Linked DNA regions of Homo sapiens. The protein of the gene in region 2 purifies or fractionates together with the protein of the main gene of each other region. This does not show direct contact. Each region holds a gene or a part of one and is shown on either strand. Other genes may lie near its edges.

The links.
Region 1: the proteins of TIPIN (region 2) and CDC45 purify together in Homo sapiens (affinity purification with mass spectrometry; one large-scale study listed by BioGRID and IntAct). This does not show direct contact.
Region 3: the proteins of TIPIN (region 2) and MCM6 purify together in Homo sapiens (co-immunoprecipitation; one study listed by IntAct). This does not show direct contact.

The regions. Positions count from the first base shown.
Region 1 is NC_000022.11:19,517,806-19,521,219, forward strand, and holds the end of CDC45 (cell division control protein 45 homolog), read left to right. Parts: intron 1-1,038; coding exon 1,039-1,103; 3' UTR 1,104-1,104; intron 1,105-2,675; 3' UTR 2,676-2,803; downstream 2,804-3,414. UniProt on the Homo sapiens protein: Required for initiation of chromosomal DNA replication. Core component of CDC45-MCM-GINS (CMG) helicase, the molecular machine that unwinds template DNA during replication, and around which the replisome is built.
Region 2 is NC_000015.10:66,335,691-66,339,685, reverse strand, and holds the end of TIPIN (TIMELESS-interacting protein), read left to right. Parts: intron 1-2,504; coding exon 2,505-2,728; 3' UTR 2,729-3,495; downstream 3,496-3,995.
Region 3 is NC_000002.12:135,869,719-135,873,443, reverse strand, and holds part of MCM6 (DNA replication licensing factor MCM6), read left to right. Parts: intron 1-600; coding exon 601-747; intron 748-3,082; coding exon 3,083-3,193; intron 3,194-3,725. UniProt on the Homo sapiens protein: Acts as a component of the MCM2-7 complex (MCM complex) which is the replicative helicase essential for 'once per cell cycle' DNA replication initiation and elongation in eukaryotic cells.

The DNA.
Region 1 (3,414 bases), on a different chromosome or scaffold from region 2:
AACTTAATTACCATAGTCACATTCTAAGGTCCTGGGGGTAAGGGCTTCAACATAGAGATGTGGGGGAGACCGTTCAGCTCATAACACCCTCAGTACTTCCTGCACCTCTGAGAAAGGATATTTTCTTGCCTCATCACCACGGATTCCTCAACAATGATAGACACTGTCATGGGAGATCCAGCCTTTGTTGAAGTGGCGTCAGCCATCTCAGAGCTGCCTTCCTTGAGCCAGACCCAGCCATGGCTGTGGCACTGTGTGGCATTGGTTCACCCCGCACAGCAGCCCCTGCTAACTCTTTTGTGCCTGTGATGTGGGAGAGGTGGATGGACACCCACTGGCCTGCAGAATATCTGGCCTTCAGTATACAGGGAGGACTCGGGCTGGGAACTGCTTGGTTTCCCTGAGGGTGGAGAGCCAGGGGTGAGGGTGCAGAGTGGGCCATGTCTAGTGCCCACCTGCGTGGGCTGGGTCTGGGGCTCTCGGGGCTGTGGCTGGCAGCATAGATGGCTCCCAGGGCCAGGCCAGCCCCATCCTGGGGCCTGGTTTTGCTTTGTGGTGAGGGTCTGGGTGCTCAGCTGAGCCTGAGGGCCCTGTGAGATATGGGCAGTTTGCACCATGTCCCCTTGTGCGGAAGAGAACACTGAAGCCGAGGAATTGGCCAGAGTGCGGCCAAAAGTGACCTGCCCCACCCAAGGACTTCCACAACCCACTCTGGGGACGGGGGTTCATGCCAGCTGGGGTGGGCAGGCCCGTGTTTGTCCAGGTCTGTAGGGCCCTTCCCTGTGTCACCTCTATTGTCTTCCCGGGGGGGAGTTCTCCCTGCAGGCCCCAACCCTGACCTCTCTAGCAGTGCAGACAGCAGTTGTGAAGATGAAGTACAGTGAGACAGACACAACCACTGAGTGCAGAATACCACAGGCCGGGAGGAGCCGCGCACTTTGGAATGCAGTGGAGGGCAGGCAGCGGAGGGGAGTTCTGTGCCCTGTCTTGTGTTCCCACTCCTCCCTTCTCACGGCTGTTTTTCTTTCATTACTTCAGTAATTGAGCTGAAAGCTGAGGATCGGAGCAAGTTTCTGGACGCACTTATTTCCCTCCTGTCCTAGGGTGAGTTACAGGGGTTCTGCAGGGGTGGCTGCAGCAGCCCCCTCAGAGCCCGACCCTGATGCCCTGCTCTGTCCTCCCTCAACGGAGGCTTCTACTTGGGTTTCAGACCGAAGCAGGGTTCTTGAGATTGGAGCCAACACATTTTTCCCAAGCACATCTGTCCTTAGGCTGCCAGCAGGGCCACAATGGGGCATTTTGAGGCAGCTAATTTCATTAAGCCCCTGCGATCCCTTCAGAAAGAGCTGGTATTCACCCTCTGCTGACCACACTTGGGCTGGGCATCGCGTGTGACACATGTCACACACAGACTCCCTGGTGCTGCCCTCGAAGGCCACCTGGAGCCTCCTGTCCCACAGCCTTCGTGTCAGGCGCTGGGCAAGAGCCCGCAGAGCAGCCATCCGGGCTTTTGTGTGCTTGGCTCATGAGAAAGCAAAGCTGTTGGCAGCCGCTTAGCTGGGAATTCCAAAGCGCTGGTTCTGCTGGGGCCTTCACCAGCACACAGCTGTCCTGAGGGCCCCATTGGGATTCACTGGCAGGTCACTGTCCCGGGACACCTCCCACTGCCCCATGTGCTACCTCTTTCTTAAGGGTTCCCAGGAAATAGGCCTGCCTTGTGTCTTTGTAACCATCTCTCAGCCCAGGTTCCCCACAGGGAATGCCACATCCAGCCCTGCATCTCCCAGAGCCCTAGCCTGGAGGCTGCGGCTGTGGCAGATGGGCCCTGCCAAGACTCTGTTGCAGGAGGTCCCTCAGGCCAGGCCTGGGGTCCTCCCCACTCTCCCATCCGTCCGTCCATCCATCCATCTGTCCATCCCTCCAGGGGCAAGCACCTGTTCTCCTGTTGGGGCTGGAGTGGGGGTTTCTGCTGACAACAGCATAGGGGGCCTCAGGGACCCCACAGTTCCTCTCAGGGTGGCCTGGGCTACATGGGGCCCATTTTGGGCGCGGGGCTCTGAGTCAGACCCTCGGGGTTTTTGGCAAGTTCTGTAGGGTCATCAGCAGTGACCTTGGGCCAGCCACCTAATCAGGCTTAGCCTGTTTCCTCATCCAAAAATGGGGCCCACTCTCTCCTTAGACGATGAGTGTGAGCATCACAGGACTGCATAGGGTGGGGCGGAGGCAGAGGTGGGGCTCTCTGGCAGTGGAGTGGGTGCTAGAGGCAAACCCCTCCCCTGCAGCCTGCTTGGTGGTGATGTTATGCTGCTGTGTGTCCTTCCACTGAGGCAGGGGCACAGGTGGCCTGGGCTAGGAGGGCTGAGCAGCAGAGTGCCGAGGGATGGAGGGAGAGCCCCCATGGGAGGGTGCCAGGGGGCTGGCTGAGCAGCTGGGCGGGGTCCGTGAGGTAAGAAGGTGCCCGGGCCAGGGGGCAGGAGCTCTGATGTAGGACAGCTCAGCCCAGTCAAGGGGTGCTATGAGGACAGCAGGGGCCTCCGAGTCTGGGGTGGCCTCACCCCCACAAGCAGTCCTGGCTACTCAGCAGCACTACCCAGAGGGGACGCCTGGGCAGTTTCTTCAATTCGGTGGCACATCAACATCGTTTGAAACTTGTTTTTTCTTGTTTTGTTTTCTAGAATTTGATTCTTCCAGAATGACCTTCTTATTTATGTAACTGGCTTTCATTTAGATTGTAAGTTATGGACATGATTTGAGATGTAGAAGCCATTTTTTATTAAATAAAATGCTTATTTTAGGCTCCGTCCCCATTGTGGCTCTGGTCTCGAGGCCAGTGCTTGAGTGTGCTCTGAGCCTTCTGTGGGTCTTGGGCCCCAGGAGCCCTCAGTGCCTGGCAGGAAATCAGCATGGGGATTGGCCCCAAGGACAAGATCTCCTTACTCTGTCCTCCAGGCCCTCCGGGTGGCAGTGGACAGAGGTCAGGACCCCTCGGCATCCCCGCCTCCTCATAGCACCTGCACCGGCCACTGCCTGGTGGTGCCAGCCAGCACCTGGCTCTGTCCACCTACCACTTCCTCTGGTCCACCTGGCCTCAGCCACATAGCAAGTCCACCCTCTCAGCCATCCCTCCACCTGTGGGTCTCACCATCCAGCACTCTTTTCCAGGTCTTTGAAGGCAGGAGTGATTTGGGTAGGTTTTAAGTCAGTGGGGAAAAGCTCAGAAAGAGTGGCCTGGAAAAGAGCACACAGGTAGGTGGGGCTGGTCTTGGTGCAGCCCTTGGCAAAGGGCAGTGGGCACAAAAGGGTGAGAGCTGGACTGGAGGCTGGGCCCCTCCCCTCACCTCTGGTGGTTTGCACAGCTTCCCGGGACCCTTGAGCTGCCTACCCTGGCCATTTGGGAAAATTCAAAGGCTGTGC
Region 2 (3,995 bases):
TCTTGACTCACTGCAGCCTTGAACTTCTAGTCTCAAGCAATCCTCCAGCATTGGGCTTCCAAAGTGCTGGGATTGCAGGTATGAGCCAGTGTACCTGGCCTAAATTTGCTGTTTTTAACACACATTGTGGGTTTGGAAACTATATAACCAAATTTGTTAAAACTATATTTAGAAAGAATTGCAAGTTGGTTTTGAATGAAGTAAGCAGGATTGCGTATATCTTTCTTAATTTCCCATTCAGTTTTTCCTTTCAAAATGGAAAAATAAGAATTATAGGCCCAGCACAGTGTCTCTTGCCTGTAATCCCAGCACTTTGGGAGGCTGAGGTGGGCAGATCACTTGAGCCTGGGAGTTCAAGACCAGCCTGGGCAACATAGTGAGTCCCCGTCTCTACAAAAAAAAAAAGAATTATAATAACTAGATACCATGTTGTAAACGAAGTTTCACCCAATATATTAACATTTTTAAGTGAAAATTATTTTGGCTACTTTTTTTTTCAGTTAAGATGAATTTACTTTTTCTTTTTGCTTTTTTTTTTTTTTTTTTTTTTTTTTGAGATGGAGTCTTGCTCTGTAGCTCAGGCTGGAGTGCAGTGGCGTGATCTTGGCTCACTGCAACCTCTGCCTCCCGGGTTCAAGCAGTTCCCCTGCTTCAGCCTCCTCAAGTAGCTAGGACTACAAGTGCGTGCCCCCATGCCTGGCTAATTTTTGTATTTTTAGTAGAGAAGGGATTTCACTGTGTTGGCCAGGGTGGTCTTGAACTCCTGACCTAGTGATCTGCCTGCCTCAGCCTCCCAAAGTCCTGGGATTACAGGTGTGAGCCACCATGCCCAGCTGAATTTACTTTTTCCTTTTTTTTTTTTTTTTTTTTTTGAGACGGAGTCTTGCTCTGTCACCCAGGCTGGAGTGCAATGGCGTGATCTCGGCTCACTGCAAGCCCCGCCTCCCGTGTCCATGCCATTCTCGTGCCTCAGCCTCCCGAGTAGCTGGGACTACAGGTGCCTGCCACCACGCCTGGCTAATTTTTTGTATTTTTAGTAGAGACAGGGTTTCACCGTATCAGCCAGGATGGTCTCGATCCCCTAACCTCGTGATCCACCCACCTCGGTCTCCTAAAGTGCTGGGATTACAGGTGTGAGCCACCGCACCTGGCCAATTTACTTTTTCTTTATAAATGGATGTTTTATTAGTACCATGTGAAACATTACATGAAGATAGCATTATTCTTGATGGCAGTGGCTTCTTTGCTGTCAATATCAAGTATACCTGGCAGTTGGTATTTAAAGCTCACCTCTGTTTATCATATACAACTTAAAATTTGTCCAAATGGAAATAAGTACTTTAAAGTTTCTTATGGATCACTCTGACATAAAACCTAAACGCACTTGGTTTTTATTAGACCTCTTTCTAGTAGTTTTCAGTTTTGTTTTTTTAGATGGGGCCTCACTGTATTGCCCAGGCTGGAGTGCAGTTGCTGATCTCGGCCCACTGCAACCTCCGCCTCCTAGGTTCAAGCGATTCTCCTGTCCCAGCCTCCCGAGTAGCTGGGATTACAGGCGTGCTCCACCATGTCCGGCTAATTTTTGTATTTTTTGTAGAGGCAGGGTTTCACCATATTGGCCAGACTGGTTTCAAACTCCTGACCTTGAGTGATCTGCCTGCCTCAGCCTCCCAAAGTGCTGAGATTACAGGCATGATCCACTGTGCCTGGCCAATAGTAGTTTGATTTTGAATAAGAACAGTTACATTTGACTATGATCCAAGAGTGTGAGTTGAATAACATTCAAAACCATTTTGCTTTTTTTTTGTTTTTTTTTGGTTATAGGATCTCACTTTGTCACCCAGGCTGGAGTGCAGTGGCACGATCATGGTTCGCCACCATAGCCAGCTAATTATTTTTTTTTTTATTTTATTTTTTTTGATGTTTTGTTGACATGGGGTCTCACTATGTGGCCCAGGCTGGTCCTGAACTCCTGAGCTCCAATGATCCTCCCACATTGTTGGGATCGGGCCTGGCCTCTCTTGCATTTAAAATGGATCTTAATTGTATAAAAATGGGCTTATTGGCTAGGCGTGGTAGCTCACGCCTGTAATCCCAGGACTTTGGGAGCCTGAGGCGGGTGGATCACCTGAGGTCAGGAGTTCGAGACCAGCCTGGCCAACATAGTGAAACCCTGTCTCTTCTAAAAATACCAAAATTAGCCGGGTGTAGTGGCGGGTACCTGTAATCCCAGCTACTCGGGAGGCTGAGGCAGGAGAATCACTTGAACCCGGTGGAGGTTGCAGTGAGCCCAGATCGTGCGATTGCACTCCAGCCAAAGTGATGGAGCGAGACTCCATCTCAAAAAAAAAAAAAAAGATATATTTAGAAGAAAGTGATCATAATTAACATTAAGTGATCTTAGACTTCATTTTACTAAACTGAGCTTTTGAAGAGGTTTGTACTCATGCGGTAAGATTGGATCAGGTACTTATAATGAATAATAATGGTATGATTTCTTTCAGATATGTTAATGAATACACCCAGGGCACACACGGTTGAAGAGGTTAATACTGATGAGGATCAAAAGGAGGAGTCAAATGGATTAAACGAAGACATTCTGGACAATCCATGTAATGATGCTATTGCCAATACTTTAAATGAAGAGGAAACACTGCTGGACCAGTCTTTTAAAAATGTGCAACAGCAACTTGATGCTACATCCAGAAATATTACTGAAGCTAGATAAGTTTCCATTAAGAGAAAATGTATCTGTTAAGTCATCGTCCTGCAAGCTTGGCGTTACTATGTATTTTTTCTTCTTGGAGTGAAAATCCTTAGATAGTAAAACTGTTATAGATTATTGTTTAAAATCTGATAATCTGGTATTTATTTATAATTATGCTTGTCACTTTAGTTAAATCTATTTGTTCTCTTTAGTGTTTGTTTTTATATAGGTATTTCTTCATAAAATGATTAGGAGGTAATAAGCAGTTTCTGCTGCTGGTCTGTCATTGAATGCCTTGTTTTCACTAAGTTGGGAGGTTTTGTTTCTGTTTTTTACTGCTCCTTGCAAAGCAGGGCTAATCCATGGACAGTGTGCCCAGAGTAGTCTAGTTGAAGTTTTTTGTTTTGTTTTGTTTTGTTTTTTTTGACACAGAGTCTCACTCTGTTGGCCAGGCTGGAGTGCAGTGGCACAGTCTTGGCTCACTGCAACCTCTGCCTCCTGGGCTCAAGCAATTCTCCTGCCTTAGCCTCCCGAGTAGCTGGGACTACAGGCGTGTGCCACCACGCTTGGCTAATTTTTGTACTTTTAGTAGAGATGAGGTTTCACCATGTTGGCCAGGCTGGTCTCAAACTCCTAACCTCAGGTAATCCGCCCCCCTCGGCCTCCCAAAGTGCTGGGATTACAGGTGTGAGCCACCGCGCCCAGCCTGGGTGAAGTTTTGAGATGTACATATATACTGAATATTAATGTCAATTTTTTAAAAGAAGTAAAAATTATCTTAAAAACTATCTACAGGCTTTATGGGAGGTTTTCATTGCTATATAGTTCTGCAGTTTACACTTTTGGTAAATACAAGATTTTTACATGTTTTCTAAGGAGTTACTTTAATAGTTAAAAGGTCACATGAAAGGCCGATACATTGCCTGGCCCTCATAGGTGCTAGGGTAGTTCAAAGAATGCTTTTTGGGAACTTACTGACTAGTTGGAGTGAAACTTGCAAAGTATCGTGGGGAACATAGCATCTCGGGAGGATTTACAGGAAAGACTTTGCTTTTGGTGGAGGAGATTCCAAGTATTGGGAAGCACATGTACAATAATGATACAGAAATAAGATTAAGGGGATAAGGCAGATTTTAGGAATGCTGATTTTGAGGTTAGATGTGTTAGGGCCAAATCGTGAGAACACCTGATTGGAGTTCTTCCTGCCAGGTAGAGGGGGTAGTTACAAATAAGAAAGGTTAGTGTTAGGAAAGGCTCTCCCACCCCACCCCCTCACCCCTACCCACAG
Region 3 (3,725 bases), on a different chromosome or scaffold from region 2:
ACACCTCATTTCCATGTATTCTTATTTCTGTTCTGCTTCTTAAATCCCTGACTAATTTGTTAGTTTGCAAATTCCCTACAGAAATGGAATCATTGGGTTTGAGACTGAATTTCTTGATTTAACATTTTCCAATCTTAATTATACATGACAGTAGTAAAAGAAGAGTTAGTTGTTGGGTTTTTTTGTTAGTTAGCAGTTAAACCTCACAATCATGGTGGAAGGCAAGGAGGAGCAAGTCACTGATGTCTTACGTGGATGGCATCAGGCAAAGAGAGCTTGTGCAGAGGAACTCCTCTTTTTAAAACCATCAGATCTCGTGAGACTTACTATCAGAGAACAGCAGGGGAAAGACTTGTCCCCATGCTTCAATTAACTCCCACCAGGTGCCTCCCACAACATGTGGAAATTCAAGTCGAGATTTGGGTGGGGACACAGCCAAACCATATCAGAAGGGAGGAGTAACTTGCCCCAAGTTACAGAACTGCCAAACATGGGCCTGTCTGAGCCTAGTTGTTGGACTTTAACCAATGTTCTGAATTATCATTCAGGTTCTTTGTACTGCCTGTGTCCTTAATCTAGTTGACTCGAATGTACCTGCAGGTTTCAGAGCAGCGATGGAGAAATTAAATACTTGCAATTAGCAGAGGAACTGATTCGTCCTGAGAGAAACACATTGGTTGTGAGTTTTGTGGACCTGGAACAATTTAACCAGCAACTTTCCACCACCATTCAAGAGGAGTTCTATAGGTATGGGCATATTAATCTTCTTTACTTTGAATAGGGGTTGAAATCCGGGAAGCCAGCTCTTCTTGGACTGTAAGTGTTCACTTGTGTAGCAGAAGGTCAGCTTTCACAGTTATTTCCCACTGAGAAGAGGCGCTTTGATACTGCCAGTGGTCGTTTTAGTACTGCTCTGAACTTCATGTAGGCCTTTGTAGAGCCGAACGTTTTTTTGTTGTTGTGTTTTGTTTGTTTGTTTGTTTGTTTGTTTTTTGAGACGGAGTCTTGCTCTGTCACACCTAGGCCGAAATGCAGTGGCGCGATCTTGGCTCACTGCAACCTCTGCCTCCCGGGTTCAAGCGATTCTTCTGCGTCAGCCTCCCGAATAGCTGGGATTACAGGCGCCCACCATCACGCCCGGCTAATTATTTACATTTTTTAATAGAGACGGGGTGTCACCATGTTGGTCAGGCTGGTCTCGAACTCCTGATCTCAGGTGATCCGCCCGCCTCGGCCTCCCAAAATGCTGGGATTACAGGCGTGAGCCACCGTGCCCGGCCAGAGCTGAACTTTTTTTTTCAAATACAAATGTTGAAAATCTTTGCTTTCTATATAGTTTTCCCAAGAGGAAAACTGTACTTACTTACTTTTGTGTCATTCCATTGATCCTTTTTCCCCACAGGAATAGGTGTTTGTGTGGGTCCTTTTCTTGTACTGGGGATATCTTTACAGCATTGACGTTGTTGTACTTCTTGTTCCCTTAAAGTTTAATTTTGTTTTCGCTTATAAAAGTAATAGGTATATATTGTAGAAAATGGAGAAGAGTAAGGAGAATTAAATTGCTTATACACTTGTAATCCACCACCGTCATTAGCAGATCTGCTACAACAGAGTTCCAGGAGCCTTCCAAGTCTGCAAGTGCAGAGTTTTGTAAGGATCTTCTGTCACATTTTGATGTCTTTGTGTGTATGCTGTGTATGAAATTACTCAAATTCATATAAAATTTCTTAAACTCATACTAATAGCTCCAATTGTGGTTTTTTGGTAGAAATACTATGGTTAGACATTATATTTAATAGAAGGCTTTTATTTTGTTTTGACTTGTTATATATAGCAAGAAACATCTTTGCACACAAGACTTTGTATTAGGATTAAATAAATGTGACAGTCTATAGAAATAGAATCAGGTTAAAATAAATTGTGGACAGTTGTGAAAGATAAATGAAAACCCAGGGATAAGGAGGCACAGTCTCGTTCATTTCTTAGTAGATTAGGAGATGGAGGATTTGTCTGTGTTTCTGGTCATAGCTGATGATCAAGAATAATTGGAGGGGGTAAGTAAGCAACAGGATTTATTGTGAAAGCATGCAGCAGTAGAAGTTATAGCACTGACAAATAAGGGAGAGGTAGACAATCAAGCCTGGTGGTAGAAGCAGCTGTGCCATGCCTCATGCACAAGCCAGGCAGCAGTTCTCTTTCCTGAGAGTAGCGCCTTTTTTAGAGGGTTTCAGACCCCACTTCTTAAACAAACTAAGCTGGAGTAGGTATTAGAAACATATCAAAAGGACATGCATACTTCACTCTCACCAGTCAAATGGAGCATTTTTGCCAATTTGTTCTCACATTAGTGCACAAATACTTCTCCTGTCCTCATCCATTTCTTATCAAACCAGCCAGATGTGGTGGCTCACACCTGTAATCCTAACACTTTGGGAGGCTGAGGTGGATAGATCACTTGAGCCCAGGAGTTTGAGACCAGCCTGGACAACATGGTGAAATCCCATTTCTACAAAAAAAACCCCACAAAAATTAGCTGGGCATGGTGGTGCATGCCTGTAGTGCCAGCTACTCAGCAAGCTGAGATGGGAGGATCACCTGAGCCTAGGTAGATTGAGGCTGCAGTGAGCTGTGATCGTGCCACTGCACTCCAGTCTGGGTGACAGAGTGAGACCTTGTCTCAGAATGAAACCAAAGAAATTGACTGACTTGACACATGACTTACTAAGTCATAAACAGCCCACAGAAAATTCACAGTATTGAGCATAATATTGACAAGATGATTGTTCAGCTAGTCATCTTGGACAGAGGAATGGCCAACAGTGTGGGTGCTGTATGATTATTTATGTGCTATATGATAATCAGGTATGGTATGACATTTTATATTTAGTGTTCCGGTGGGATAGGAGAGAACTGAAAGAGGGTCCTAAACCTAGAGTAGATAATAGAAGTGTCCTACACAGTTAAGTTCTAAGGTTTAGTTGTAACCAGATGAAATTCCTTAATCTCGGCTGTTGGTAGGTATGTAAAGGGAAGGAGGCCTTGGTAAACCTCTAAGGTATCAGCTGACTTTTTTGTTTTTCAGAGTTTACCCTTACCTGTGTCGGGCCTTGAAAACATTCGTCAAAGACCGTAAAGAGATCCCTCTTGCCAAGGATTTTTATGTTGCATTCCAAGACCTGCCTACCAGACACAAGTAAGAAACCCTTCTCTGGAAAAAAAGGAATTCACCAAATGGTATAAGTACCACTTAGCTGACAGTCAGAAAACTTGAGAGGTTGCCTTGATCTGCTATTAGCTGGCTATTTAACATTATACAAATCACTTTTACCTCCCTGAGCCTCAGTTTCCTTGTCTGTGAAGTCTTTTGGCTTAGGTTTTCTACCTAAATCATGCAAAAAATAGGTTTGTTGCTGTAAAATTACTTTTTCATAATTGATAATCACAATAATTATAAAACAAGTACTTATAAAATTGATGCTGTAAAATACCAGGAGGAAAAAATAGTGGTTTGCATTCAGATTTTGTAGAAGGTTGACTTTTGTAGGAGTTATACCCACTTATCCAGAAAGTTTAGTGTTGGAGAAATGTATTTTCCTATGGAGATGGGATTAGATGTAAAGGGAGTGAAGCAAATTTTTAGGATTATCACATTTTAGGGCGCCTTTTAGGGAAATTTGGGAGAAAATTGATCAAGGGAGAAAATATGAAATTCTAGAAATTCCTGA